2 separate regions of the Homo sapiens genome follow, and region 2 is linked to region 1. The links come from fine-mapping of genetic effects on gene expression. A gene starts in region 1. The other region holds a variant in brackets. All regions are shown on one strand. Distances are between the middles of the regions. Region 1 holds the start of REEP1 (receptor accessory protein 1). Region 2 overlaps MRPL35 (mitochondrial ribosomal protein L35).

What was found. PIP is the estimated chance that this variant, and not a neighbour inherited with it, causes the effect.
Region 2: its variant is fine-mapped to the expression of REEP1 in whole blood (TOPMed, PIP above 0.99). The same link has a PIP of 0.9 or more in blood mononuclear cells.

The regions. Positions count from the first base shown.
Region 1 is chr2:86,330,428-86,345,325 of GRCh38, forward strand. REEP1 (receptor accessory protein 1) reads right to left here and starts at 7,199. Exons shown (of 9, transcript NM_001371279.1): 1 at 7,052-7,199. The coding sequence starts at 7,083.
Region 2 is chr2:86,208,343-86,223,240 of GRCh38, forward strand. It overlaps MRPL35 (mitochondrial ribosomal protein L35), which reads left to right. Exons shown (of 4, transcript NM_016622.4): 4 at 2,138-5,448. The coding sequence ends at 2,326. REEP1 (receptor accessory protein 1) reads right to left here. Exons shown (of 9, transcript NM_001371279.1): 8 at 11,628-11,779; 9 at 5,651-8,768. The coding sequence ends at 8,697. Among named protein-coding and RNA genes, the nearest start is that of MRPL35, 16 kb to the left of the region's middle. RefSeq lists an enhancer at 9,824-10,118. The variant A/G (reference allele first, on the strand shown) is at 9,100.

The DNA.
Region 1 (14,898 bases):
TGTGTGTGTGTGTGTGTGTGTGTGTGTGTGTGTGTTAAGACAGGGTCTCACTCTGTTGCTCAGGCTCAGTGCAGTGGCATGATCTCGGCTCACTGCAACCTCCAGCTCCCAGGCTCAAGTGATCCTCCCACCTCATCCTCCAAGTAGCTGGGACCACAGGTGCACACCACCATGCCCAGCTAATTTTTGTATTTTTTTTGTAGAGATGGGGTTTTGCCATGTTGCCCAGGCTGGTCTCAAATTCCTGGGCTCAAGTGATCTGTCCACCTCTGCCTCCCAAAGTGCTGGGATTACACGGTCAGCCACCGTGCCCAGCCAGAATCCTGATGTCTTATAACGATAAGACAAAGGAAATCCAGTCAGCCTGGGACTCTCAGTGAATGCGATGAGCAGAGTACCCCTGCCAACCCACAGTAACAGGCAGCAGAAAGCAAGAAATAAACCTTTGTTTTCTTGAGCCACTGGGATTTGGGAGTTGTTCCTGCAGCATACCCCAGTCCATCCGAACAACAAATATTTAATGGATTATAAGCAGCATTTAAAGTTTTCATTCTAGGATATCGGACAGTTCATGGCATCAAAAAAGCAGCTGCAGGAACTGGGGCCCGAGCAACCAGAACCAAGATTCTCTTGTGCCAGCCTCTTTCTCTCACCCAAGTCTCATCTCCATTTATTTTTGCTTTGTTGTATTCTTCACTTTTACTTATGGACTTTCTCCACGTATGCCAGGGGCTTTAGATGCCTCAGCCCTAACTTCATATCTTCCCAACTCTGGAACCCATAGGCAAGGCTATTCTCCCTCAGCTCCAAATCAAGAAACCCTGGGGAAGGATCTCAGTTTGGGTCACCTGCCCACCTCTGGACCAATGTCTGTGCCCAGGGAAATGCATATCTAGGCCTGGGTCACATGCTGACTTCTGTGGCTGAGTGAAGGGAGGCAGGATGCAGCATGCTACCAGAAGGGAATGGAAAACTAGTTTTGCAGCCCAAAGTACTATCCAGAGTCCCCTACAAAGAGGGGGAAAGGATATACACACCTAAGTATGCAGGAGAATGCCTAAGGCAGACTTTGAGCTGTGATCAGTGAAAGGAAAAAAAAAAGGTGGGGGGGCGGGGAATGTAGTATAGATACGCAGGATAGTCCTAAGAGGAAAGAGAAGCAGGGCAAGACAGCCTCTAGGCTGGACAGCTACCTAGAGTGGGAACAGGAGGCACCTTTGTCCTAGAACTGCCAGGTGACTGACAAGGCCACGGGGAGAGGGAGAGATAGGATGTCAGGAGGAGATGTTAACTCAAATAACAGATGCTCTCTGTTTACTAATCTAGTAAATCTGACAATGGGGCAGACCTTTTCTGATCAGGAATGAGCTAAGTGTGGAAGAGCAAATACTGAACCAACCCATGTGCCCCATTGCCATCTTCCCTGCATAAAGCACTCTTGGGACTCCTTCCCCACTGAGCCTAACTCAGCTTCTTGCTCCTCAAGACAGTGTCCTAGGCAGCCTCACTTGCCATCCTGGTCTGGGTACCCACGCATGCTTGAAGGCCTATACCAAATTACCTTTCAAGATTCCTTCTGAAATCCCTACTGTGTGCCCAATAGTTGGTCCTTGATCTATATTTCCTTTTTCCCTGTATTCCCAGGGAAGCCCCAGTGTGACTTAAAAATCCCAAAGTGAAAATAATGTGCTTCTGTATAAAGACAGATGAGATCTGAAAATTCAGAATAAATACTCTGAATATAATGATCCAACTTCCAGTTCCTCAAGAATCCCAATTCCCTTCCCAAGGCCCAGAATCGAGAGGAGAACATCCTTAGTGCCCAAGTGCACCCCCCTCTCCTTACTTCTTTTCGGGGGTTGGAAAAACTCCCCCAGACTAAGAATTCTGGTAACCAGCTGGGCATGTGTGTGGCTCATCCCTGGCAGTGAAATTCTAAAGGTGCCACGTGCTATGGCTGCTGCACTGCCATATCTCTCCTTTCCCTAGCCTCCCTAACTTTCCTGGAAACACACACACACACACACACACACACACACACACACACGTTCACTCACATACACTCATACGTACACAAAACAGCAGCCTCACTAAATGGCCAAAGAGGACCTGAGTCCCCCTTCCCTCATTCTCCCCAGGGCTCCTCCTCCCCCGACATAATACACCCTCCAAAAAAGATAGCGGGCTTCAGAAGGAAGTGGGGAGACTGACCCAGTAATAACTAGGTGAGACCCTCACTTGTCAGCTAACCTCAAATAAGACACAGTGGGAAGAAGTGCATGAAAGCTACTTCTCAGCAGACAGGCAGGATTAGCAAACAAAGAAACAGGGCAGCTCAACAGCGGAGAAATCTAAGCTAGTATTTTTCACTTCCTTGAGGATACTCCTCCTGTTTATAAATAAATGTGATGCATACAGGCCAGCTGGGGAAGGAAGGGACCTAGAGGAACACTGACTCTTGGAGCTCTTAGGACCTGCAAGGTGACTGTGGCCAAAAACCTGTCTCTTAGACAGGGAGCTGGCCCAGGTGGGTGGGAGTTGCCCTTAGGACTGTGATAGTGAGTCAGACCAGCACTGGGACTAGAACCCATGTCTGCTGCCTACTAGCCTAACATCTTTCCTTTCACAATTCAACCGAAACATTTACCCAGCTCCCACAGTGTACTACAGCACAGTGCCAGGAAATCAATCCTCAACCAACTGGAACCCTCCATTAACTGAATCAGTTTCCTGCATGCCACATTTTAAAAGCAGGCCCCAAAGAAAAGCTAGCTTATATTTAAGGATTTACGATATTTTCTTTTTTTTCCATTTGTTTTGCAACAGTTGGGGAACATCTTGAGGACAATCCACATTCCTCCCAGCTCCATCCATTTGCACATCCCTGACCCAGGACAGACTTCATGCTCCAAATCCCAGTCCTGGAACTTAGCCAGATCTTCAGCCATCAAACTAAGACTCTGTCTTGATCATCACACTGTATTTTCTAAAAACTAGTATTTTTTAAAATGTGCAATGTGGAAATAAAATGTTTTCTGCACAGCCATTAGTTATTCAGAAAATTCTGTGGACTTAGAACTCTCTTTCCCCCATGTAGTGAGCTGGGGTTTTAGTCTACTAATCCCATAAGGGGTGAGAAGCTCTTGATCCGTTCAGCCAACATTCTGGGCCTTGGCCAAGACAATGAGGCAATACCTGCTCCTTAGAATAATGCTTCAAAATGGCATATTCTTCCAAGAAGTCACAGAGCAACGTTGGTATCCCCCCTCCAAAAGGGTGCACAAAAACATGCTCTCCCCAGTTTGAAATTCATTCATGCCTAGGCCTTGAGTTGTATGTAAAGAAAATGAAAGGAGGCAAGCAGGCAAGTCCTAAATAAGCCCCTGTGTCCCATGAAGGTATCAACCTGGTTCTGAGTGCTATTGCACTGAGTATCTCTTCCTTAATTCTTTACAGGCTGAGCCAAGGAAGTTAGGAGAAAGAGAGCTGGCAAGAAATAAGCATCTCAAACTGGTCCTCACTCTAAGAGCCTTGCCCGTGGGCACAAGCCTGTCTTGATGCCTGCTGACCTCCGTCCCCAGGGGACAGCAGTAGCCAGCCACTCTGCTTGTCCCCAGGGCCTAGGATTTCCTTCAACACAACCAACCTTCACTCAGTGCATTCAGGTGCCAGATACTTTGTGAAAGACCCATGGCAGGGATAAAGCGGTTGTAAAGGGAAACAAGCCACAATTGCTTTCTTCAAAATGCTCACGGCCAGTAGCAGCAGAGACAACCACGAGCACTGGCTGGCTGTCCCTGGAGGCCATCAGCTTGTTGTGATACCTCTGGTCGGATGGTTGGGACCACACAAAGACAGGAAGACACTCCCTCTCTATCCTCACAACACAGTGATAGGTCTTCCTTACATGTTCTTTGATGTGACAGAGGCTTACAAAACCATGAAAAGATTACTTATACAAAACGTGACTCGCGGATAAAACCATAGGATGCTCCCATACCAGAGGTCTAGGGAGCTTGAAAGAGATGTTTTTCTCAGTGGGGAGTGAAGGTGGAAAAAGCACTGGACTGGACTAAAAATCCAGAGCCTGTTTTCTTCACCAGCTCATCTTGTGTCCCTGAGCAAGGCATATTTCCTCTGCAGTTTTACAGATGAGGGGGAGGACTAGATCAGTTGTTTTTATTAGCAGTAAAACACATATATTTTTCTGAATTGTATTTTATCTAGAACCCCAATATATAAGACAAACAAAAAGGGAACTGCTTGGGTTGAATCAGGGATGAGGAGCCCAGAGCCCATCTGCTCAGGCTGGGTGGCCCTCAGGGAACCCAGTTTGAAAACCACAGGAGTAAATTAAGTCTGAGAGCCCCTCTCATAGGGTTCCCGGGGAGGACAGAAGGAGGGACTCATCATTGATTTAGTGCTCTCCGTGGTGCTTGGCAATTTATATATCAAGTGTCATGGAAATCTTTGCAACAGCAACATGAGGTTAACTAGCTGTGGACTAGCATCTGCTCTGATCTGAGTTGTGAACTGGGATCTTCTGGCAAGAGGCAAAACTGGGATTTGAACCATGGGCGTTCTGACTCCAAACACAGTATTCCTCCCCTTGATAAGAAGTTCCTCAAGGTATGTGGAGTGTAGAATATTGGGCTGAATCAATAATATCCTTGAATTACAAATATATGTACATATATGCAATACAGGAAAATTTCTTGAAGAATATGCCCTCCATCATTATTATTAGTTATCTCTGTGTGGTGGAAATGTGGATGATTTTCAGTTTATCTTTTCTAATTTTCCTGTAATTAACAAATATTGTCTTCATGAAACAGGTATTGCTTATTAAAAATGATGTTCATAACTCATAATCAATATGCTTATGCTAGGTTTCTACAGGGAATTAGGGACTGGGGGATAAGTGGTATCCCTGACCTTTTGGACTTGATAGTGGAAGTAACAATCCCAAATCCCATCAACTCTCCTTGGGCCACATAATGCTGTTCATTTAAATTCTCTGAAGTCTCGGTTCTAGGGAGTGTGGTTGTTTTAGAAAGCAACAGCACATCCCTGAGACACCTCCCAAATATATGCCTCTCCTCTCCACCCCCATCAGTTGCTCATTGTAAAAAAGGGGGAGGAGCCGGGCGTGGTAGCTCACGCCTGTAATCCCAGAACTTTGGGAGGCCGAAGCGGGCGGATCACTAGGTCAGGAGTTCAAGACCAGGCTGGCCAACATGGTGAAACCCCGTCTCTACTAAAAATACAAAAATTAGCTGGGCGTGGTGGCAGGCGCTTGTAATCCCAGCTACTCGGGAGGCTGAGGCAGGAGAATCGCTTGAACCCAGGAGGCGGAGGCTTCAGTGAGCCGAGACTGTGCCACTGCACTCTCCAGCCTGGGCGACAGAGCGAGACTCGGTCTCAAAAAAAAAAAAAAAAAAAGGGCAGGGGTGAGGGAGGTGCTAATAAAACTAATGATAGTCACATGACCCAGTGCTAATAAAACTAATGATAGTCACATGACCCAGGATCAGATGCCCTCACTCCCAGCCCAGCAGGACCTACAGAGAGCCCACCAGCCAGGCCAGCTCAACTCTCCAGCCCCACCCTGAGGGCTTCCCAGAAGCCACTGGCAATATCGATCCCAGAGAGGAAACACCACCCTGAAGGCAAGACAGTGTTGGTCAGGCATGAGGCTGGGCAAGGCGTGTCAGCCACTTTCCTGTATTATTCATGTCGGCTCTGCCAGCAGAAATCTTCTAAATATTTAACATGCCACCTCAAGGTGCAGCGCAAACACCCCGCAGTCAGGAACAGCTGTGGAGAGGCCTTCACGGAATGACTTGGGGGCTGAGAGGCACAGACACTGGCTTTGGGAGGAAAGCCCTGAATGGTGGCGGGAGACAATGCTGAGATCCACTTCGGAAGGGAAAATCAGTAAAGAAGGGAAGGGAGATGGGTGGTGTTTCAAAACGTGGGGAGTGATGGTGCACAATCACTGGGGTCCAGAGCCCCGTGTTCTCAGACAAAGAAAAAGCCCGAGGTGCCTGCCACCCTCCTCCCCGCCTTAGACTCCCCACACCCATTTCAGCCCCTGCTAGCTACAGCAGGTGGCAAATCTGTTCTGACTCAGGCCAGGATGGTTAGGGAAGAACAGGGACTTGGAACAGCCACGTCTATCTCCAAAGGAGAATAAATCCACCGGGGAAGCTCTTCAAACGCCTACAGGTCCTGGGGCTTGAAGGAGAAAATCGGCCCCCACGCCCACCCCCAATGACTTCACACAGACCTCACCCTAGATGACTCTGCGCTCTCCTGCAAGGCCTGGGAGGTGTCATCGCCACCATGCGGGTGGCTGTCACTTGAAAATTTCCCGTGCATTCCTGGAGGTACCTGCCCCTGTCTCTCAATCCCCTGCAAAAGGAGTCGGAGCCGGGGGCTCCAGGCGTTTACTCCAAGATTCACATGCGTCTTCCCATGTCCCAGCTGCCTTTGCCGCTGTCGATGCAGACACCTAAAAAGGAGGATTTTTCCAACCCCACTGGGAGCCCCGCCTCTGCCTCTCCACCCGTTCCGCGCTGACCCTCCAGGCAGCGCCCCTGGTTCGTCTGCGCTGTCCTTTCCACCTGACAAAAGCTGGGGCGGCGGGGCGCGGCGCCGGGCGACCTCACATTTCTGCCAAAGGAGAGAGACGCGTGTCCGCGGTGCGCCCATTCGGGGCCTCTGCAAATCGACCGAGCTGAGGAACAAAGCGGCCAGCGCGCGGCGAGACGCAGCCCCCACGGAACCCCCGAGCGCCCCAGCCCTCGCCGTCCCGGCCCAGCCCCCCGCAAGCGGCCGCCGGCGCCGGCTGCCTCCTGGGCAGCAGCCGCGTCCTGCGCCGCCCGTCCGCCCGCAGGCGTCCTCGGCGGCTACTGTACCTGCTAAATTTAGCTGCGCCGGGTATTAATAGCCCGAGCCACTGGGACCGGGCGCTGTAGGGGCGCGCGCAGCCCGGGGCCGGGGGCGGGGAGGGAGGGGACGGAGGGGCGCGGGGGAGAAGGCCACTTACACCACCAGCCTGGAGATGATCCATGACACCATGGCGGGCAGGCGGGCGGGCGAGGCCCGGGCGGCGCGGCTCGGCTAGGCTGCGGGCGGCGCGGGCTGCTGCGGCGTTCCCGGAACGTCAGTCAGCTCACGGCAGCCGCCGCCAGACTGAGCGCGCCCGCCGCCCTGCCCGGCGTTCGCGCGTTGGCGCAGCCGCGGCACGTTCTGGCGGCGGCGGCGGCGGCCCCAGCCCCCCGGGGCTCGGCGGGCCCGCAGCGATTGGGCGGTGAGCTGGTCAGGGCACCCGCGGGCCCGCCCCGTCCCGCTCGCCCTGGCCCCCGGCTGAAGGCGGGCGCGTCCTGCGCGCTCCCCGGGGCACCGGCCCCGCCAAAGGAACCCTGCAGCGGCCCCGTTTGCAGGGCAGGGACCCGGGTGCTGCCCCACCCTCAGCGTTCCAGCGGAGAAACTGAAGTCCGAACCTGAACCTCGGGAATCTGTCTGCACCTGTCTAGGTGGGATGCTGTCATCCCTCATTCAGCTAGTGCGTTAGCCTCATAAAGGGTTTACCTGGATCCAGACCTAACCTCTTCAGTCTGTCCGTTGCTCAGCACTTTCTGCATAAGAAACAAACCTGGGCGCTTGCCTCCCTACTTAAAATTCTACAGAGTCCCTATATGATCGTGGTACCTGCCTAGAACCGTGTTGCCAAGACCATTCCCCCAAATAGTCCTCTAGCTCTTTTCCCTCCAGGCATCTTGGACTCAAATATTTGCTGTTTCTTCTTCCCTGTCAGTACACGCCACGCCTCATCGTCCTGCCTTGGTTTGATTCAGCTCCTTCTTCTAGGCTGGGCTGAAGGGCTACTTCTTCCTAGGGAAGGCCTTTCCTTGGGGGCTGCTCCGGGCCCTAGGAGGAGACTAGAAGCTGCGACTGCTTAGCACCAGTGCCCCGCTGAGCCACGTTGAACTCTTAGGCAAAAGGGAACTTGTGCACCCTATATAAACGTTTTTATGTATTTTTTAAAATACCGTATTAAATATTATGGTGGTTTTTTTTGTTGTTGTTGTTTTTTTATGAGACAGAGTCTCGCTCTGGGGTGCAGTGGCGCGATCTCGGCTCACTGCAAGCTCCGCCTCCCGGGTTCAAGCGATTCTTCTGCCTCAGCCTCATGAGTAGCTGAGATTACAGGAGTGCGCCACCACGCCCAGCTAATTTTTGTATTTTTAGTAGAGACGGGGTTTCACCATGTTGTCCAGGCTGGTCTCAAACTCCTGACCTCGTGATCCGCCCGCCTTGGCCTCCCAAAGTGCTGGGATTACAGGAGTGAGCCACCTATTATGTATTTTAGTTGCTGAATTTTATGGCACCTCTTAAATGTTGCACCCTCACTGAGCGCCTCACTCTGCTCACCCTAGTCCCGGCCGCAGATAGTACATTATTCTGTTACACTGGAAACGCTTTGTCCTCTACTCCTAGGCTCTGCTGCTGCTTTTCCCACCCTCCAATAGCTTAGGTTCTGCGTGGTGCTCCCAGCGCCCTGTCCTTTGCTGATGATGGTGTCATGTATAATTCAGTGTCAGATGTGAGAAGCGCAGGAGACAGCTTAGTACTCTCAGATGTAGCAGAATCTGTGCGTGCGTGTGCCTGATATAGTCAGAAGAAAGACTTCACGGACAACAAAGGGACTGCAGATGAGACATGCTCTCATATCTCAGGTCTCCAAAGAACCCATAAAATAGCTGTAATGTAGCAGTTTTTTCATGCTGCCTTGACCCAGTTTTGAGGCTCAGGCTGGAGGCTGGTCAGTTCCCCTTCTCCAGCAGTCTATTAACTGCATACCCCCAACCACTTCCGTTAGCAGGCTCTCACACGCGGGACACTATACACCTGTCCAGGGCTAGGCACCAAACAACTAGTTACAGCCCCTGTACTTCAGAACCCGCTGAAATTATCCAAATTAGCCTATCCTATATCTGCTTGCCTTATTTCACTCTTTCCTTCCCTCAGAAACCATGATAAAGATGTTTGTCCACAATTCCCCTCTCTCCCTCTCTCTGTGACAGACCCTGGCCCTGAGTGGACCTGCATGGTGTGCTGTGATCTCTCCAGGAAACTGTGGATATAAAAAGCTCTAAAACTCTTTCTAGCTTCTCTCTCTTGATCTGTGTCTGGCCCCACCATATCTCACTCAAGGTAAGGTTATACGGGTAAAACAATGCTCCACGGGGAAAAGCTTTCCATACTTACTAGGCAAAGAGAACACCAAAGCTAGATCAGGACAGCACCCAGCACAGAGGACCTTCCTGAGACCTCCCTTCCCCTCCATCCATACCCCTCACCTATGCTCCCTGCGTCAGAAAGGCTGTTACCCATCTTGCAGGGGGAGCAGCGGAGGGATGGACTACTGTGGTTCAAAGAGACCCTGTTGGTGGGAAAATAAAGAAGAGGTGACCACATGCTTGTTCCCTACTCCCTATAAGTGGAATTCTCAGATTTGACTATTGCACAGGACTGAGCATTTTAATTACCAAAATGAAACTATTCATGGGGTTAAAATATCTTGAGGTCTTTTCATTAGCTGAAGAGGACCAGAAAACTAGTGAGACCAACACATATTTCTCACAAGGGATGAGAAAGAACTTGTCCATAGAGCGGACTTGGATGGGTAGAGGAGGGAAAAGAAGAAAGAAAGAAAGAAAGTTGCTTTTGTACTGCATTCTGTCTCTTTCAGTGTAACTGTTACACTTATTGTATCTCTCTATCCTGGACCTGCTCTTGTTTGTCCTTGGCCCTGGAAAACATGTGGCCAGGGAACGGACTCCACCTTCTAGACAATGGAACTCTTACAGCTCTATCAGTTTCTTGACTTCAAGTTCTTTTTCATAAGAACTGCTTTGATAATAGATGTCTCTCATCTGTTTTTACCCTGTACCCTTCCCCTTTCTTCTGGGAAGAGCTCTCTGTTTTTCACTGGGGAATGAGTCTCCCCATACTCCAACCTTAGAAACTGTGATTTTCTTATATATCCTCACTACCTTGATTGGCTTATGGGTGATCACCAAACAGAAACTGGGCCAACGATCTCCCTTGGGATTTTTAAAGTTGAAAATAGAAAAAAGAGAATTCCACTTTCTTCTATGAAGCATTGGCTGCTGTGGGAATTGTCCTCCCATTGCAAACAACTAGAAAAACAGGATCAAAAAAAAGAAACAACTGTTTTTCTTTACTTGTTTGTTTGAGACGGAGTCTCACTCTGTCGCCCAGGCTGGAGTGCAGTGCTGTGATCTCGGCTCACTGCAAGCTCCGCCTCCTAGGTTCACACCATTCTCCTGCCTCAGTCTCCCGAGTACCTGGGACTACAGGTAGCCACCAGTATGTCCAGCTAGTTTTTTGTATTTTTAGTAGAGATGAGACGGGGTTTCACCGTGTTAGTCAGGGTGGTCTCGATCTCCTGACCTCGTGATCCACCCTCCTCGGACTCCCAAAGTGCTGGGATTACAGGTGTGAGCCACCGTGCCCGGCAAGAAGCAACTGTTTTTAAGCATTGAACAACAGAGCACAGGACTGTGATAACTAAGAGAAGAGAAACAAATGAAGTGAGTCTTACGTCCGAGCTTACTGTCTCAAAGCAGTTTCCAGGCATCACTGTAGGGATGGAGAACCCAAACAGAGCCCAGAAATTTCACAGAACACAGGAGACAGATCAGAGTCCAGGGAAGCCAAAGTGGCTAGAATTTGTGAAGCAGAATATAAGAGTGATGGGAGATGATTAGAGAGAGAGTTGCAGAGATCTGCAGAGCAGTCACTTCAAGTCATTAGCTGAATACTGTCCTAGGCATGCATGGGTGAAATTCTATGAGGCCATGGGAAGAACTACCAGAAAGCAGTATGCCAAACAATTCCTGGAGCTCACACAGGGCTGGAAGTAATTTGTCTTCATACCAGCCAAAACAGAGACCTTTTATACACAAAGCATTGGCCAGAGTCCACAGAAGGGTATCATCTTAATGCAGGGGGAGGCTAAATTAGCCCTAAAATAAACACTTATCTGGTCCTGCCTTAACAAAACTTAAAAGCAATCTTCAAAAGGATCAAATTGATCTCAAGTAACTTAACTGTGCTCAGAGAAAAAAAAAAGTCCAAGATTAGTTACAAAACAAACAACAACAAAACCCAACACCCAATAAGATAAAATTCACAATGTCCAACATGCAAACAAAAATTATCAGGCATGCAAAGAAAATGACTTGTAAGCAGGTTGAAAAATCAACCAATAGAAACAGACCATGAAGTGACAGAAATAATGCAATAAGCAAATAAATACCTTCAATTTTATAATATTTGAACAGACATTTCACCAAAGAAAAAATACAAATGGAAAAACAAAAAGTACATGAAAAAAATATTCAACATCATTAATCATTAATTAGGGAAATACAAATTGAAATCACAAGAAGATATTACTGCACACATTTAAGAATGGCTACAATGAAAAAGACTGATCATTTCATGTTCTGGCAAGGATATGGAGCAACTGGAACTCTCATATGCTGCTGGTGGGAAAGTAAAATGATACTACTTTGAAAAATGGTTTTCTATATTTCAAAAAAAGTGGAAATTACTTTTGCCTCACACCCTTCCCCTTTCTTCTGGGAAGAACTCTCTACTTTTTTTGGTGAATGATTCTCCCCATGTTCCAACCTTAGAAACTGGTCAGACAGTTTCTTTTTTTTTTTTTTGAGATGGAGTCTGGCTGTGTTCCCCAGGCTGGAATGCAGTGGCACGATCTTGGCTTACCACAACCTCTGCCTCCCAGGTTCAAGCAACCCTCCTGCCTCAGCTTCCTGAGTAGCTGGGATTATAGGCATGTACCACCACACCCAGCTAATTAATATATTTTAGTAGAGACAGGGTTTCACCATGTTGGCCAGGCTGGTCTCGAAATCCTGATGTCAGGTGATCCACCCACCTCAGCCTCCCAAAGTGCTGAGATTACAGGCGTGAGCCACCATGCCCGGCCCAGTTTCTTTTATAATTACATATACACTTACATATGACTTAGAAATTCGATTCTTTAGATATTCACCCAAGAAAAATGAAAACATGTCCACACAGACTTGTCCATAGCAGCTTTATTCATAATGGCCCCAAACTGGAAATAACCCAGATTTTCATCAACTGGTACAAATTGTGGTATATCCATACAATGGAATATTTACTACTCAGCAATAAAAAAGAAATTAACTACATATGCTTGCAACAACATGGATGAATCTCAAAAGCATTATGCTAAGTATAAGAAGCCAGATACAAAAGACTCATACTATATAATTTCATTTTTATGAAATTCTAGAAAAGACAAAACCATAGTAACCAAAAGGGCATAGTGGTTCCCAGATGTCAGGGGTGGGGATTGTAAAAGGGCAAGAGGAAACTGTTTTGGGTGATGGAAAAATTCTATATCCTAATTGTGATGGTAATTACTAACCATAAACAGATTCATCAAACTTTACATTTAGAATTGGCAGGTTTTGTTTTATGTAAATTATACATCAGTAAAGCTAAGTAATAAAAAATAGAAAACATATTTTTCCATGATGTCTTATGAGAAGCTCTGTAGTTGTGGATAACCATGTTTTTATTGGCCTTTTTCTTATTTATTATTTAAAAATGTTTATATATTGAGAAATAAGCTTTTTGACTGTCATCCACATTAAAATCTTTTTCCCAAGTTATCATTTTCCCTTCAGACATTATTTATGACATTTTTTCTTTTCAAAATGTTCAGAATTTTATGTAATCATTTTTATGTATATTTTATGGCTTGTGAGCTTTGTATTGGTTTATATATACCATTTGCCTCTCCTATACTAAAATTACTTATTTTTAAAATTTTTCTTAATTTTTAAAAATTTAAAATTAAAAATATTTCTGTGCATCTGCCTTTAAATTTTAAATTTTAATTTTATACTTTTTATTTTACAGTCCACCTGGAATTAATTTTAGTGTATGAGTTAGTTACTTGTCTTAATACAATTTATTGAACAAGCCACCATTTTCTCCTTCAAGTTGAAAGGCCATCTCCATCATATACTCTGTTCCTTATTATATCAGAGTCTAGTTTTTCTAGACTCTGTTCAGTTCTGCACATCCACTCATGAATGGTTGTAGTTTTAATTACTGCAGTGTTTTATAACATATTTTACTAATAGTAGGGATAGTCCCTTCACTTCCTTTTACAAATTTTCTGGTTATTCTTGCCATTTATACTTTCATTAGACTTTACAGTCATATTATCTCATTTTTTGATAATTCTGATTGTTATTTTTAATTGAGATGAGGTTAAATTTTTAGATTAATAATTAATCATGACAGTATTTGTCTTCCTATCCAAGAGCAAGGTATTTGTTTTCATTTATACAAATTATCTTCTGTGTTCTTAATAGCATTTAATTTTTTCTTCAAGTAGATCTTTCACATTTCTTTACATTGCCATTTGAACCAATGTGTTGTATTCCATTGTGTAAATATACCATAATTAATTTAAACAATTCCATATCATTGGCCATATAGTAATAGATCATTTCCAATTTTTACTGATTAAAAACCTAGGGCCAGGCATGGTAGCTTGCACCTGTAATCCCAACTACTTGGGAGACTGAGGCAGGAGGACTGCTTGAGCCCAGGAGTTTCAGTACAGCCTATGCAACAAAGCAAGACTCCTTCTCTAAAAATTAAAAAATAATTAAAAAATAATTTAGCAATGAACACACTTGTAGCTATATATTTTAATATGTTCATAATGATTTAGTTAGGATAAATTCCTGGAAATTGAGTCTTTAGGGGTATGAACTTTTTGGGCGGCTTTTGATGCATAATGCTAAATTACATTCCCAAAATGTTTCAGAAATGTTTGTTCTAATTTTTGTAAATTATAAGTGTTACATGTGGTATAGTAAGGTCTCATCATACAATCAATAACTTACTTGAATTAAACTTTAAGGGTCAGGAAAGAAAGAGAAAGAGGAAAATGGCCTGTATTACAGGGGTTCTGCCTGTCCTTTCACTTCATGACTTCATGAGAAGGCGCCCTGTGCTGATGATACTAGAGAGGTGGCTCTGCTGTTTCCTCCATAGACCTCGGTTCCTATGACAACCCCACACTCTGTGTGTGTGATTCTAGTGTTCACACATCCATATTGTTTGTACAACATGATCCTAAGCACCTCCACAGCTTCAGTTGGAAATGAACAAAACTGGAAAGTGATCTGATCCACAGCCTGAGGAAAAGCTCATTGTGTTAGACCACTATGAGCCATATAAATAATTTTTTACTGTATCAAATTTTTGCCTTAAACATTGACATTGATATGGAAACTCAACATCAAGTGTACCTACACCCAGAGTTGATCTACCATGAAGATAAAGCATACGTTTTAGGACATCTAATTAGGAGCCTGGGAATGACTCTAGCAGTATATTAACATGATTAGATGTCTTTAATAAAATGTGCAAAATTAAAGATTTTTATTAAAATCTGTTAAGACAGCTGTTTTTTCTAGTTCTCAATCACACTTCTCCTTGTGCTGAGTGTTATCCAAGTGGCTGGAGGCATTTTTGGAAGTTGGCTACGATGAAATTGAAAATACATTTAAAGTTTGGTGGGACATATGTATGGAGCTACAGTGACTTCCATGTCCGTTTTAGCTATGGTTGCTCCCCAATAAAGGAATGGCTTCCCAAAACACTCCTACTGCCCACTGTGTCAACTCACTCAGCTCCACAACACCATAGGCAGAGATAAAGATTGTATCCTACTATGATCGTGGCCTGCAGCCTTGGTCCTGGAACTGCTTGAAGAGTAGAAGA
Region 2 (14,898 bases), 120 kb before region 1:
ATCGCCCAGGCTAGAGTGCAGTGGCACAATCTTGGCTCACTGTGACCTCTGCCTCACGGGTTCAGGCCATTCTCCTGCCTCAGCCTTCCGAGTAGCTGGGATTACAGGCATGCACCACCATGCCAGGCTAATTTTTGTATTTTTAGTAGAGACGGGTTTTCACCATGTTGGCCAGGCTGGTCTTGAACTCCTGACCTTAAGTGATCCACCTGTCTCGGCCTCCCAAAGTGCTGGGATTACAGGCATGGGCCGTGACGCCTAGCCCCACCCTTTGGTTTTTATACCAGTTATTTCCAGGTCCTCTTCTAGCCCTAGGTAAAATGAAATGGGTGGGTTTCCTTGCCTTCCTTTCCATGTCCCTCTTACTGGGCTCTGGGGCCCTCATGTTACTGTAAAGGACCCGATCATACTCTCCAGTCATAATACCTAGCTTCAGTTCAGGGCTCCCGAAAGTATACCCTGTATAGAATGCCCTGCCTCTTCAAAATCTAATTTTCAGAGAAAAAAAAAATCTGGGTAGATGAATTCAAACTAATGTGTAAAACAAAGTATTTTCCATGACACGGTTTCATCCAGCAGTCCTTGGTATTTATTGTTCATTCCCTCCTTCCATTTTTGAATCTAGAGATTGTCTAAAAAATTTCAAGCATTTTCATAGTGGTTCCATTCTGTGAATAATCTTTAAAGGATACTGGTGGTAATGAGCAGGGCAATAAATTAGGTGTTTGTACGTCAGAGATCCATAGTAACCCAGTTTGGCCTGCAAACTATGAAATTATTACACAAATGTGGAGATTTGGCTTTAAATGTTTGCATTTAAAATTGTAAGCAGTGAGTAGCAAAAATCTAACCTCTAGCATTCTAAAACCAGAACTCTTAAATAACCTTTCCTTATTTCATCACTGTCCTTATAGAAGTTGATGGTCACAGTGATGATACTAAGACATGTCAGAAATGCAAGGCACATTCTCGGCAAAGAGCCATGGTTTTGTTCAGTTGGTATTGTGCCATAAAGAGCCCTTGGCTTGAAAGGACCCAAGGGCTCACCGTGTGGTTTTAGCCAGATGTTAATTAAGCTGGATGGCACCTAAGATCCCTTCTAGTTTAAACAGGCTATGATTATAGTTTTTATAATCAATCAAATTTTCCTTTCCTGTCTTTAAAAATAAATTCTTCAAAATGAATAATACCTGTATGGGTGTATATGAAAGTTCTGGGTTAAATATGTGGGTTAACCATTCCTTCACCACTCCTAATAATAGTCTTACCATATTCATAATTCCTTAGAAAAGTACTTCCTATAAAAATTGGTCCCTTGTGTGTGAAAATAATAAATGAAGCAATATATTTGAGAACTGTGCTTCTCAGCTCTTGTAATACTCAGCCTCCTTAATAAATATTAATGTTGTTACCTCGCCTGCACTCCATCCTCCTCTACATTAGGAAAGACAGTGGTTAAGAACTCTTATTAGCCTGGGCAAGATGGTGAGACCTTATCTCTACAAAAATTTAAAAAGTAGCTGGGTATGGTGGTGCACACTTGTGGTCCCAGCTATACGAGAGGCTGAGGCAGGAGGATCACTTGAGCCCAGGAGGTAGAGGCTGCAGTGACCGTGATCATGCCACTGCACTCCAGCCTGGGTGACAGAGTGAGACCCTGTCTCAAAATGAAACAAAAAAAGAACTCTTATTAGCCCTCAGACCTCTGTCTGCTACTTCTCTAATCAATGGTTTCTTTTTTTAAAGATGTAAAATAGAATAATAGTATGTTGTTAAAGATTGCTGAAGAGATAGTAAGATCATACCTGTTAAGTTAGTGATTATAATTCTGTCATTATCTTGTACTTTCCCAGCCACACACATTTAGTTTTATTTTCTGTGAGTTTAATTTAAATAATTTTTTTCTAAAATATGATTTATTACTAATTCTTTTTTAAACTACACATGCTTTCTCCATCCCCCTCCCCGCCACCCTCCCTTCCCCCGGCCATTGAGAATCACATCTTTCCAAGAAATAGTCCAGCCCCTATGGAAGTCTGGTTTTTGTTCTTATTGGGTCTATAAACCTTGAGTTGTGAAGATACCTGTTGTTTCATACATAGTATGATGTTTTACATTTCTTTGTAATATCTGACAGGCTGGCTATAAGAAAAAATTATGGAAAAAGACACCTGCAAGGAAGAAGCGATTGAGGGAATTTGTATTCTGCAATAAAACCCAGAGTAAACTCTTAGATAAAATGACGACGTCCTTCTGGAAGAGGCGAAACTGGTACGTTGATGATCCTTATCAGAAGTATCATGATCGAACAAACCTGAAAGTATAGATCAGAAGTTTCACTTGTTTCTCAGTTATTGGATATGTATCTTTGTGTACATATCTTTGCAAAAATGGATAAGTACAAAACTTGATGTAAATTGTACCAATGAATACGTAAACATACAGTGACAACATTAAACTTAGAAAAGTTTTAAAACTTAATGGATCAGACTTTGCCAGATTTGGTTAGGGAAACAGAAATTTAGAATGGTGCATTATTTTTAACAAATGGTATTGGCTTAACTAGTTGTTTCAGTTATGCTCTTTTAGTTGCAAGGAATCTCAAGTGGGACAAACATAAAAAGACTCAAAAGCTACAAGTTAGCTCAAGCAATGTGACATTATTTCAAGGATATGTGCCAGGGAATTCAGGAACCACCTCACCAACCCCATCTCCCACTCAGAAATCACCTCCCAGCCTCAGGAAGAGTAGAAATTGGGTGGTGCTCCTCAGCAGGGGAAGGTGGATGTTTAGGCTTGGGCTCTGCATGCATGTGACTTGCTTCTTTTTGCATTGTTAACTCCATTCTCTCTATTCACCAACTTCTCTACACAGCTTTTGCATACTTACAGTTTCTGTTCCTTTGTAATAACTTTAACTTGCACCTTTGAGGTTCTTTTCTACATGATGACCTTCAGCTCCTGCTGCTAGTCTCCAATTGCCAAGGGAATTTAACTGGGCCAGACTACCTTTTTATACTAGGTCTGGTTGGGTCATTGTCTAGAGTAGGGATTGGCTGTCCTTAAGTCAGGAGCCCGCTTTGTATTAGCAGGTTTGCATGCAGCAAAAAAACAGTTATGTGAGCAGTTTCACTTGGAGGTTCACATGGGGTGGCAGCACACTTAACATCTAACACACCAGGTTCATTGTGTTCATAACACTTGTCATTTACTGTAACAACATTTTTTCATAGGAGAGTAAATAGCCCTTCAGCATGCTCATTCATGAAACAGAAGAGGCTGTACAAGTGAAGACAAGGGCTTTTTATGCAAGTTTTGAAAGATAGGTATTTATTTTTTCTAGAGACAGGAGTTTTGCTCTGTTGCCCAGGCTGGAGTGCAGTGGTGCAATCATAGCTCATTGAAGCCTCGCACTCCTGGGCTCAAGTGGTCCTCCTGCCTCAGCTTACTGAGTAAGGATATGTATTTCTTAAAAGTTAGTTTATCCACTTCAGATTTCATGTTTTCATTTGTAAGGATAAACTTTTCCCACAAATTTTCAACAATCATTGTAGAAACTAAGGGGGAGAAAGTAATCTCAGTTGTTTTAGAAACGAAAAAGTTAAGCATTGTTTACTTGAAGTGGGCAGGGAAGCAGCACTGAGTAAAGTTCAATTGAGTGGTTACAGTCTAGGGCAGTGGTTCCCAACTCTCCGATCAGAATCATCTGGGAAGCATTTTCAAACAGCAAAGTACTTTGAAAACCATTATTAAATAGAATTATGCATGAATTACTGTTTCAGATCCTTTAATGTGGTAGTTGGTAATAATAAGATGAAATTCCTCTGTTGTTAGTAAAATTATGAAATTGAAGTTCTGCAGCATGTCAGGCCAGGATTATTAGGGAGATTCCTCGAAACTAGTGTGTGTTTATTAAAAGGAGAAAGGATAACAATAGAATGTTCTAAAACCAGAAGTCCAAGTGCGTGTCTACTTATGGGACCAATAAATAAAGAACAGACATTTGATTTGAGGTGAGGTAAAAGCCTGAAACATGGAATGGCATTCTGTTTTGATGGATTTTCATTTCTTCGCACTTCTGAGACGGCAAAGCCAACCACTTAGAAGCCTTCCACATCTTTGTCACCTGCCTGGCTCCTGCTCTCTGATGTACCTCTGGGTAGTGAGATGGAAATGGTGCCTGCAGAAGTTGGGGAGAAGGATACTTTTGCACAGCCTCCATGATGTCTTTATTGCAAATATGGATGACAAGGGTCTCTGTTACAGGGGCCTCAGAGCACCTTCGTTTCTCCTCTAGACCAGGGACAGGTGTAGAGATAAGGACTGGCAACCAGAGCCTCAGCATCCAAAGATGGACTGAAGTGGGATGGCTGACAGGCACATAACTTACGGGAAAGGGAATTTCATACATACGATTTTTGTTTTGTGGGTAGGAGGGCTTATCATCAACACTGATTTTATAATCTGACAATAAATGTCTTTCATTAAAGAGTTTACCTAAATGATGTTCGATTATATGTATAATTTATAAAATATTTATGTATAGTTTGTTTATTCAGGTATATGTATAATTTATTGAACACCTACTATGTCCCAGCATATCTACAAAACTGGGTACATACATACTGTCTAACTGCTAATCCACATTTCCAGTCTTACAAAGGACATAATGATTAGTTAAGCCCTAATTTAGATTTGAGGAAACTGAAGCTGAGAGAGGGTTAAGTAAATTACCCAAAGTACAGCTAATAAGACCCAGAATCTCAGTCTCACTCCTTGGGATCCTGTGTATTTCCCTGAGTCTTCTAACATATGAAAATTCATATCTAAATCAACAAGTGACTGTAATCTGGTACTATAAATACTAAATAAACACTTCTTCATAACACTGTACCAATTCAGCTTTTAAATTTTATTACTTTGCTTTCCTGTCCTTTGCCAACTCTTAACCTAGTTAATCCTAGTTCTGTTGACATTGGACCAGGCTCAGTAAATAAACGAATGGATTTCCAGCCTTTTTTTCCCATCTGTTCCTGCTTTTAGTCCTCTGAATCTGCTTCTTTTCTTACTGCTGCTTTATTTTACAGTGATTTTGTCAAACATAGAATACAGGACTAAAAATGCAAAGAAATTGGGTCTGTGTTTAATTTTGATGTTTCAAATTTTGAGCTTCCAAGTCTTTGTGGCCACCCAATGAAGTTTGAGTCTGCCTGTTCAGATGTGAAAGGTAAGGGCTGCAGCAGGTTTAAGGGTGGCCCTTCACCACCCTGTTGTCACCTGCACAGGCACTCCCCCATTTGCAGATGAAGAAATGTTCAGAGAAGAAAAATGATGGACCAAACGTCTGTTTGCACAATTGAAACTCTACCAGTGGACTATTCTATTTTCACAGCTACCTAGTTTCTGCCGATGATTTTTTTAAATGTGAAATAAACAGTGATACTTTCAGGTTTGTAGTTGTGTGATGAACTGGTTTTCAAAACATTTATATCATCTGGTTTTCTTTCCCTCTCAACATCCTATGCAACAGGCACGGGGCCAAGTCACCAGGCCAGTCGGTGGCTGAACACTCAGCTTCTAATCCTTGCTACCTCCCATATTTGAAAAAAAGTATTTCCTGTTTCCTTTTAAGCCCAACATTACAAAGATGTTTTTTAAAAGAAAAATGTTAAGACTTTATTCAAGATGTGTATCAGGCATTATAACAAAACAGCAGAACTTCAACCTTTGGAATACTGTAATTTTACATCCCTTTGATGCACAGTCCAGTATACTATTTTATTACAGATCATTCTATAGGGACTACAGACATGAACTAGAGGAAATGTGCACAGTCAAAATCCAGAATATCAGCTCTGGGAGTGTACACTGTTAGAGGATGAAGCACATCCTTTGCCATTTCAAATACTGTGCCAGGTGGAGGACTAGGAAGGCTCAAAGATGGTCATGGTTGACAAGCACTCTTATCACAAACACATGGATAGCTTATCACGGAGAACACATTTCAAAGGCCAGCAAAGTGAGCAAGCTATTCACACAAAGCCAGGAGGGATTATGACTAAACTCTCCAGTTTATAAGCACAAGTCCACATCTCACCTCCTCAGAACAGGTGCTCAATGGCAATTAACTAAAAGTTATGACATGAACATTACAGACTTTCCAGCTAGCATTTTGTAAACAGCCTGTGTCTGTAAGTCAGCAAATTAAAAACATTCAGTTGTATCCTCTAGACAGAACACCACACCACTACATGTACACTTACAGGCTTTCACATTTTATGTCAGTTCATACACAAATGTACAACTTGTCAGATACGTAAACACATTTTGCCAGAAATATGACAGCTGCTTTCAGTTGTACAGTGAGTGTCTTTAAGAGAGAAACCGACTCCCTAGTCAACACTTGAAGGAAAAATAGTTACATTTACATTAAGACAGAGTTTGGATACCTTTATATTTTTCAATCTTGAATGAGAAGTAATAATACAGCATGTCTGAGAATAGAGCGCTTCAAACTTTTTTTGGCATAGTTAAGTGCAAACTTGATAACCTGTACTTGTCACAACTCTCCATTGTAAAATGGCGAAAATATAGGTTGTTCACGATAGGATTTTAAACTGCTGCTAAAGGCAATTTATTGTTTCGGCAAAAAAAAAAAAATTGCTAAGAAGCTGTGTAAGCTTTTTTTTTTTTTTTTTTTTTTTGCATTCGTTTCTGATAATTCTGGGTACTTCCAACTAACAGGTAAATACATTTTAAAGAGTATATTCTTCTTCTGTCTGGAACTACTCAATGAGCACAAAGAAAACATTTTCTGTCTTCCTTAACAGATTTAGGTATTGGTGGGTGTGGGGCACAGAACATGAGCAAACAGCTTCTGTTTATCCTCTCAGCCACAAATTCGCTTTTAGGTATATTTTCCTATACCCTTTTGCAAATTACAAAATCACCTTCAGAGGAACTATGGGTAGATGGGATTCCAATATGCATATCTGGCAACAATCAGCTTCAAATCAAACCCTTTCTGGGGTGGCTAAGATCCAGCTAATGTGTCATCAGCAAAGGCCTCTAATATGTGTTTGCGTAGTAATGGAACAGTTTTTAATTGGGCCTGTTTATAGTTGACTGACAGTAAGTTCTATATGGTATATAACACTAATTCTCTAGTCTTCTGGGCATATCTACGAACAAATACAATCCAAATATTATGAGTAACTGGGTTGTGACCACTGCATGCATTACACTGAAAGAAACACCAACTCGAAGCACAAATATATTATTCTTATATTTCGGCTCAGCTCTCAGTGGGGAGAGCAGCTACCTCGGACCACAATGCCATTTAAACCAGATTCTTTTCAAATAAAATTCTCAATCTAAGTGGAAAGCCCCCTCAGAGAATGCCTTATTCCCCTACTAAGCAATCCAGGCTTGTATAAAACGTCTGATAAGGCCTGTAGTGCCCATTGAGTATGAGTCTGCTGTTTACATTCTGCACAGGCCAGGAGGGGAACAGAAGGTGTGAGCCACAGGTGCTCCTGGGTCTGACCAGCAAGTCTAACCCATGAAGATCTCGAGCTCCAAAACCATTCTAGAGCCCACCATTTTGATTGTTACACATGTGTTTCAGATGTATGTTATGGCATATCTGAAACAGCAGAGTTCTCAGTTTTTTGTGTGTTTGTTTTTGCTAAGCTAAACAAGTTTTGCTAGAGTTCGCTAAAACAAGGTGCTCAGAGTGTAAGCTCCTCTGTCAGGAAATCGGCAGCACTGGTCACGATAAAGGAGAAATCGTCCTTTGTCAAGCACAGAATTACTCCTTCCAGCAGCTCTACATGTTCCCATCCTCAAGAAATTGCACCAAGAGTGAGCTACCTGCCTATCCCTGGAAAAGATTCAGAAGCTCCTAATCCAGAATCCAGGGAGGAGATGAGCTTCCTGTGACTCTTCTCTTTTACTGGGATGTTCCCCTGACCTCTCATCACACTTTACTGTGTTGTGAAATATTGTTTCTCTTAGTTTGTAACTTGTCTGGTCTTTTGACTAAACAACTATCTAAAGAATATAGACCACACTCCTGCAGGGAAAGGGATGTCTTACTGGAGTTGTATTTGGAAGCTTTATAAGCACATCTGAGACGTTCTCTAGAATCAAAATATTTGTCTATATTTGTTTTTGCAGTTTTCTTACATATCAGAACCTCTGGCAGCCCTTGCAAGTCCATTATATTAAAAGCCAAAAGCCATAAATATGTACATCATAGTTCAAAGTATAAGTACCAAGAACAAAGAAAGTTGTAAAAAATGCTGTGTTTGCATTTACAGGACTAAAAACTAAGTATGCAACAGATAAATTACAAATGTACATCTCAGCAGCATAGGGGTGATTCTCTTATCTTTCTAAAAAACACACTGCTGTCTATAATGACAATCCAATTGTGGAAAATTACCAACCTCAGAAGACTTAAAGGTCACCACCCCCGCCCCTACTACCTTTCCCTTTAGCCTCTCCCCAGCAAAATAAAGAAAAGGGGGAAAAAAATAAATCCTTAAAAGTGGAAGGGGAGAGAGAAAAGGCCATGTTTGTGAGGCTGCACACTCAAAGCACACCCAGCTTGCGGATTTCTATGTTATTAGTGAATAGCTCTTTAAGGCAGAGAAGAAACATTCTGTGGATCCGGTGCTGTTGGCTCATCTCACTCACGTGGTTTCGGTGGCCGAGGATGAGGTACTTTTCTTCCTGAAGCGAGATCGAAGGATTCTAGGCGGTGCCTGGTAGAGAAAACAGAAAGGTGTCCCTCAGTTTGGTGTAAATGTGGGATCTTTTGAGGTCAGCACCTGGAAGGCATTGTGTTGAGACTTCCAGCTCCTTTGGCCAAATGCAGCTGGCTAGGGCTGGGGTCTCCCTGAATCTCCGCAACAGGAAGCAATCATCAGAGTCCCATCCCACATATCGCATGAAGCTGAGCCCTTTGAGAGGCTGATGCCTCCCTCTTAAATTATGCTCCTCAATCTCCCAAGGGAACGGTTGTGCAGAATGACACATCTTTCTTGTTTCTGCCTGAGGAGCAAAATTATCTTAAATGATTCAGCAGAAAGAGAC[A/G]CCTCCGCATGCTTCCTTTGCTTTTGTTATTTCCTTTGGGAACCAGCCTAATGTGTTTTGGTACATGCCTCAAATTTCCATCATCAAATTTCCAGTCCCCTTTCTGGATGAGAAACCTCTTAATGTACAGCACACCACACCACAAAGGCAAACACCACCTTGAAGTACAGGTTGAATATCCCTTATCCGGAAATGCCTGGAGTCAGAAGTGTTTGGGATTTCAGATTTTTTTTTTTTTTTTTTCAGATTTTGGGATGTTTGCATATACATTCCAATTGAGCACCCCAATCTGAAAATCTGAGATTCAAAATGCTCCTATGAGCATGACCTTTGTGCGTCTTGTCCACACTCAAAGAATTTCAGATTTTTCGATTAGGGATGCTCAACTTATATGAAGGGCTCCACCTCATCTCTCCCACAAATGACTCTCAAGAGACCCCTCCTTCCATGGGATACACAGATCACAGGAGGAGTTCCTATTTCAATGAAAGTGAAGGGAACATTTTCTGGCACAGCACTTGAGGGGGTTCACACAACTGGCCCCAACCTACCCTTGGCCCCCGTGTCTGTCCACTTCTCTGTATACACAGAGAACTTCTTTCTCTACACTGTGCCCATTCATGCCTCTATTCCTTCTGACTGGAAGCCCTTCCCTCCCTCCTCTGTCTTGCATATTTCTAGGCCTCTTGAGGACCCAGCTCAAAAGTCACTTCTGCAAAGGTTTCCCGGAGCCCCTCCTGCCACTGCCCAGCCATGCACAACCAGGCATCGTCACCTCCTTTGTTCTCTCATGTTTTGTACATGTCCCCCAGCAGAGGACTTTGCACCCAGTGGGAAGGGAGTGTGTGGGGGCCCTGCTCACTCTCTCCCCACCAGACTGGGGACTTCCTGAGGGCAGGCCCATGTCGCATTCACCACCATTTCCTGGTAAGTGGCTCAGTGCTGGGCAGGCACATACAAGGCAGGAAGTGAATGAGCCAGAAAACAAGACTCAGGCCCTCTCATAGAGTCCTCATGCTACAGCCTTACCACTAGGAAATGCTTACCAGCCACCTCTGGACAGACACTGAAAACGGAAACAACGGAACCCACCTTTATAGTAATCTGCCTCTTGGCAGGCTGGTGAACTGTAAACAGTAAAGCAGTTTGTGCAGCTTTAATAAACAAAAGCAAAACAGCACAAACCCTTGGGCCTTAGAATTCTTTAGGCTGGGCTCCTCTCCCCATCAGGAGGCTGCCCAGGCCAGATTGCCCAGGCCAGACTCCTCCAGCAGTGTCCAAGCCCAGAACATCCTTTCCCAAACCCTCTAACTTTAAAAGGGATGCATGTGTGCCTCACCTTGCAAAGGAACCTGATGAACTGCACATGGAGGTGGTCATAATTACAGTCCTAACAAATAAGAATGCTAGGCTGCTCAGTGTCTGCAGAAGGGAACATTTCAAGGCATCTCCCCATATAAGTCTCACAAGGGTCTGTACGGAGACTTCCTATTTGCTTCAGATGGCCTCTCAGGCCGTGATACTCAGCAGATGGGGAATAGGAGAGGAGACCTTAGGAAGCAGAGAGAAAGACTGGGGTCCCTGCACCTGTGCTCATGACTGGTGACTCCCTACCCACATCACAGAGCAAGGCCCAGGAGGCTCCAGGCTCAGCCCTCCTGCTGCCAGAACTCCATCCACATCCTACAACTGAAAATAGCATATATGTCAAGGGTATTGGTTTTGGTAACCCTAAAGGGCTATACCCCTTCACTAACATTTCATGAATAGCTACTTTATACCAGGCACTATATGCTGTGTCTTGGAGATACAGCGATGAACAAGCCTTGTTCTTATTTATAAAAACTTTTCAAATAACACATTCTGAGTTTTCTTCCCCCAAAACAGTCAATTTGGGTTGTTTTTCACTTGTACGTCAACTTAGAGTGGTAGTTGTTAATACCTGGAAAAACCAAAACAAAACAATAAAGACCTAGATACTTTACCACTCTCCTATTTGTTTTTCTTTTCTTTTTTTTTTTTTTTTTGAGAAGGAGTCTCGCTGTGTCATCCCGGCTGGAGTGCAGCAGTGCAGTCTCACTGCAACCTCCTCCTCCTGGGTTCAAGCGAGTCTCCTGCCTCAGTTTCCCAAGCAGCTGGGACTACAGGTGCGCGCCACTACACCCGGCTAATTTTTGTATTTTCAGTAGATAAGGGGTTTTGCCATGTTGGCCAGGCTGGTCTCGAACTCCTGACCTCAGGTGATCCACCTGCCTCGGCCTCCCAAAGTGCTGGGATTACAGGCATAAGCCACTGCACCCGGCTCACGCTCCTATTTCTAAATGAAATTAATAGGATTTCCTCTCCTTGGCAAGTAGCTGGATGCTATCCAGTGACTGGTTCTGCTTGTTTGATGGAAGGAGATCTTTCCACCCCAGGTATTGAGGAGATGTTGGTGCCCCAAGAGATGCTGCTCCCAGGACCCCCAATCTCCAGGGCATAGCCTTTGGACAAACACACTCCAACCCACAGCCCCAGACACTGTGTACCTCCAGGGGCAATTCCATCCTTCGAGGTGCTTTATACTTGTACATGAAATCCAGCAGGTCTTCCTCCTCGTCGTCAGAAAACGCCAATGGGTTTTGGACCTGGTGGGGCTCCCATGCCTTCATACCACCCTCATTCACATCTCCCTCAACCACTTAATGTCCATTTACAATCTACACAGATGAGACAAGGTATAGCAAGGAAGCATCAGTGCAGGGAGCAGGGAAGGGCAAGGTTAGGCACACAGCACAGCAAACCAGGCCTGTGAGGACAGCTGAGGCCCCTCGGTCTGAGGAAGCACTGATGTTTTGGGGGCCTCCTTACAGGGGATCTGGGATTGTGAAAGTGCAGTTGTGTGAATCTCCAGGCACTGTGCACAGAAACAACCACAGACTCAGAATCTACTGAATTCTGAGTAATTCAGTAGATTTACTAAGGGGGCATCACTTCCCTGGGTGAAGAAAGAAGCGGCTTTAACTGAGACACATCAATCCCTGCAGCTCAGTCCTGTGATCCCACACCAGGTGAATGCTCAGGGAAAGAATCTCCTCTAGAGAGGATGGCAGCAGTGATGTGGGGTGGGGTGGGAGAGCAGTTTCTATGTTGTACATACAAGCCATGTTGACATTGTATATTATACTTGCATATTCAATTCCAAGCATCCTGTAAGAGACAGGATATAAAATGCCAGGAGGCCTTAAGTGATAACCTTAAACAAAGCTATATAGTTTTTTTGTTTGTTTTTTTTTTTGCGAAGGCCCAGTCCTAGAGAAGCAGAGAAACCTAAGGAAGGAGAATCTGACAGATGCCTCTGCCAAAAAAAATGATAGCAAGATTCCTGTTTCAGTCTGCCTTGAATACATCTGCGGGAAAAGCTTCAGAATTAATTCATCTCATTGAACGCACAGTATTTTTTAAATGTTAAATGCTAATACATATTCCATGTCATCTGCTAGGCGGTTCTTAGTTGAGATGTAAAATATCTTCTGCCCCTACCCAGCTTATCTGGTATCACACACACACATTTTTCTATGCTGCATCTATTGTTTTTACCTAGAATCACAGAATGCAAGACTAAGGGGTTCTCAAGTCATCTGGTCCAATCACCGTGAGGCCTCCAGATAGAAACCACAGCTCTTCTTGAGACACCCTGCTCCTAAGAACATATTCAGCCACCGAATGTGCTCTCTCTCCATCAACAGTGGACTTGCTAGACTATACCACCACCAGGCGTGGAGTAAAAAAACAGACAACTGAACCCTAATCTTGGGCAGCTTTACCAGTTACCACTGCTGTGCTCCCCAACAGCCAGCAGGAAGCAGCACAACATGCAAAGCTGAATTTTAGGCTGGGGTGTGATTGGTTCAGACTGGGCCTTAGTAAGTAAAGTCCTGAGATCACTGATGTTCCTTTGATTTTTAAATTACTATTATTATTTTATTTCTACTCTGCACTTCCCTCAGCTTATTTACTCTGGGCTTAGTTTGTCCTCTGCTCCCTTCCTCTGTCCTAATCAGCTGCATCCTGTTGAGCACAAAGACCAGTGACTCCAGGGAGCCCTCGCTGAATACTCTGACCCTCCCTGGCCTCCCCACTCTGAGACCCGACAGTGCTTGGAGGCTGTGCCACACAGCTTGTGTTGGGTGCCCTGGTCCTCATGTCAGTCTCATTGCCTCAGCCAACAGAAGGCATCCTGAGACTGGGGGGCCATGGCTGATCCTCCCTCAGTCTCTCTGAGCACCTGACCCAGGGCTGGGCACACAGTGGCCACTCATCAACTAAACTAAATAGAATCCTGAAGTCATCTCAGAGAGCTCAGCTCTAGTCCCAAGTCAGAGCTTGACACCCCCATTAACCAAACCAGGAAATTCCTTCTGGACACAGATACCTCCTGCCTGGCAGGAGGGAAAAAAGACCAAAAGCCCTCAGACCAAGGCAAAAACTGCAGAAGCAGCCTGGCCAGCTCCACCCCAGCAGCCAACTCCATGACATGGAAGTGGGGTGGGTACCGGTTCGAGACTGTGCCTCTGCATATGCTGTACCCTCCACATCCAGGTCCAGGGCTTTCCCTGTACTGATGGTTGTGGGTGTCAGAAGGTGGCCCAAAGTCACCGTGAGATCCTCAGGCATCTAACAACCCAGGCTAGTTATCCAGTCTGGATTCACTGAGGCTGAGCAATGAACTCACACTTACCAAAATCACCATCATCACTATAATCTCAGGACTGAAACCAAAATGGCTTTGTGCATGTTCTCCACTGCAAGGATTGCAGGGTAGAAAAGAAATGACCCTCCAGCCCAGTAGGAGTGATGGTTCAAGGACAACCCAGATATCCAAGCAGGAATAGAAACAAGTGCTCAGCTCAGCAGAGGCTGGGAGCAAAAGAGGCCAGTGTGGGCAGTGAGGGAGCCAGAATAGCCTCAGGAAGAAGCTACAGAGAGAACCTCCTAAGAAGATAAGACATCTCCTAGTCACTGTGTCCGCTGAGCATTTCTGCCAAGAGTGTTGTCTATAATATTTGCCTTACTCTCAGAACCAGTGAGAATAAACATTCTAAATAAGACAAGCTTCCACGCCTCTAGCTGGCTGTTGCACAGTGGACTGAATCTCTTAATAATTGTATTTCCCTCTTTGCAGTGGTTTCAAGGAAGCCAGGTGTCTCAACAGTCTACACCTTGATGGTATGCATTTAAAATGTCCTTCTCCCCACTGATTCCATCTTACTTGCCCACTCCCTTCTCCCCATGCTTCAATTTTCTTACTTTGATTTGCTACTTTAGATATATTTCCACAAGTAGACCTAACTCCTTTTTATATCAGGAAGGAGTATAAATGGAGAAATGAACCCCACAGAACATAGTCCCAAAAGAGGGGCACCAGGAGGAGCAGGAGAGTGAGTAGCTGGGTAGAAAATCCCATGCTCTGCCTCCTCCATGTTCTTGTCCCTGAAGATCTAAAGATTGGTGACCCAACAGGTCCTTACCCCTGGCAACAGGCCTGAAAGAGTATTGCTATCCACATCTTAGTACTCTAATTGGCTCCCAGAGACAATGTGTGTGGGAGGAGGGTCTCCCGCCCAAGGTCATGGCCATAACAACTTGCAAACCTCAGGTGATGGTGGCCACGGCCTTGAGCCTGCAGAGCTGCCACTATGATGCCCAAAGCTGGGTTGCTTCTAGGAAAGGGCAGGGTTTCTGCCGTCTTCCACAGCAGGGGAATGGGTGTGTGGCCTTGGCTGATGTTTCTGTATTAGCAAATGTGTCAGCAGGGCT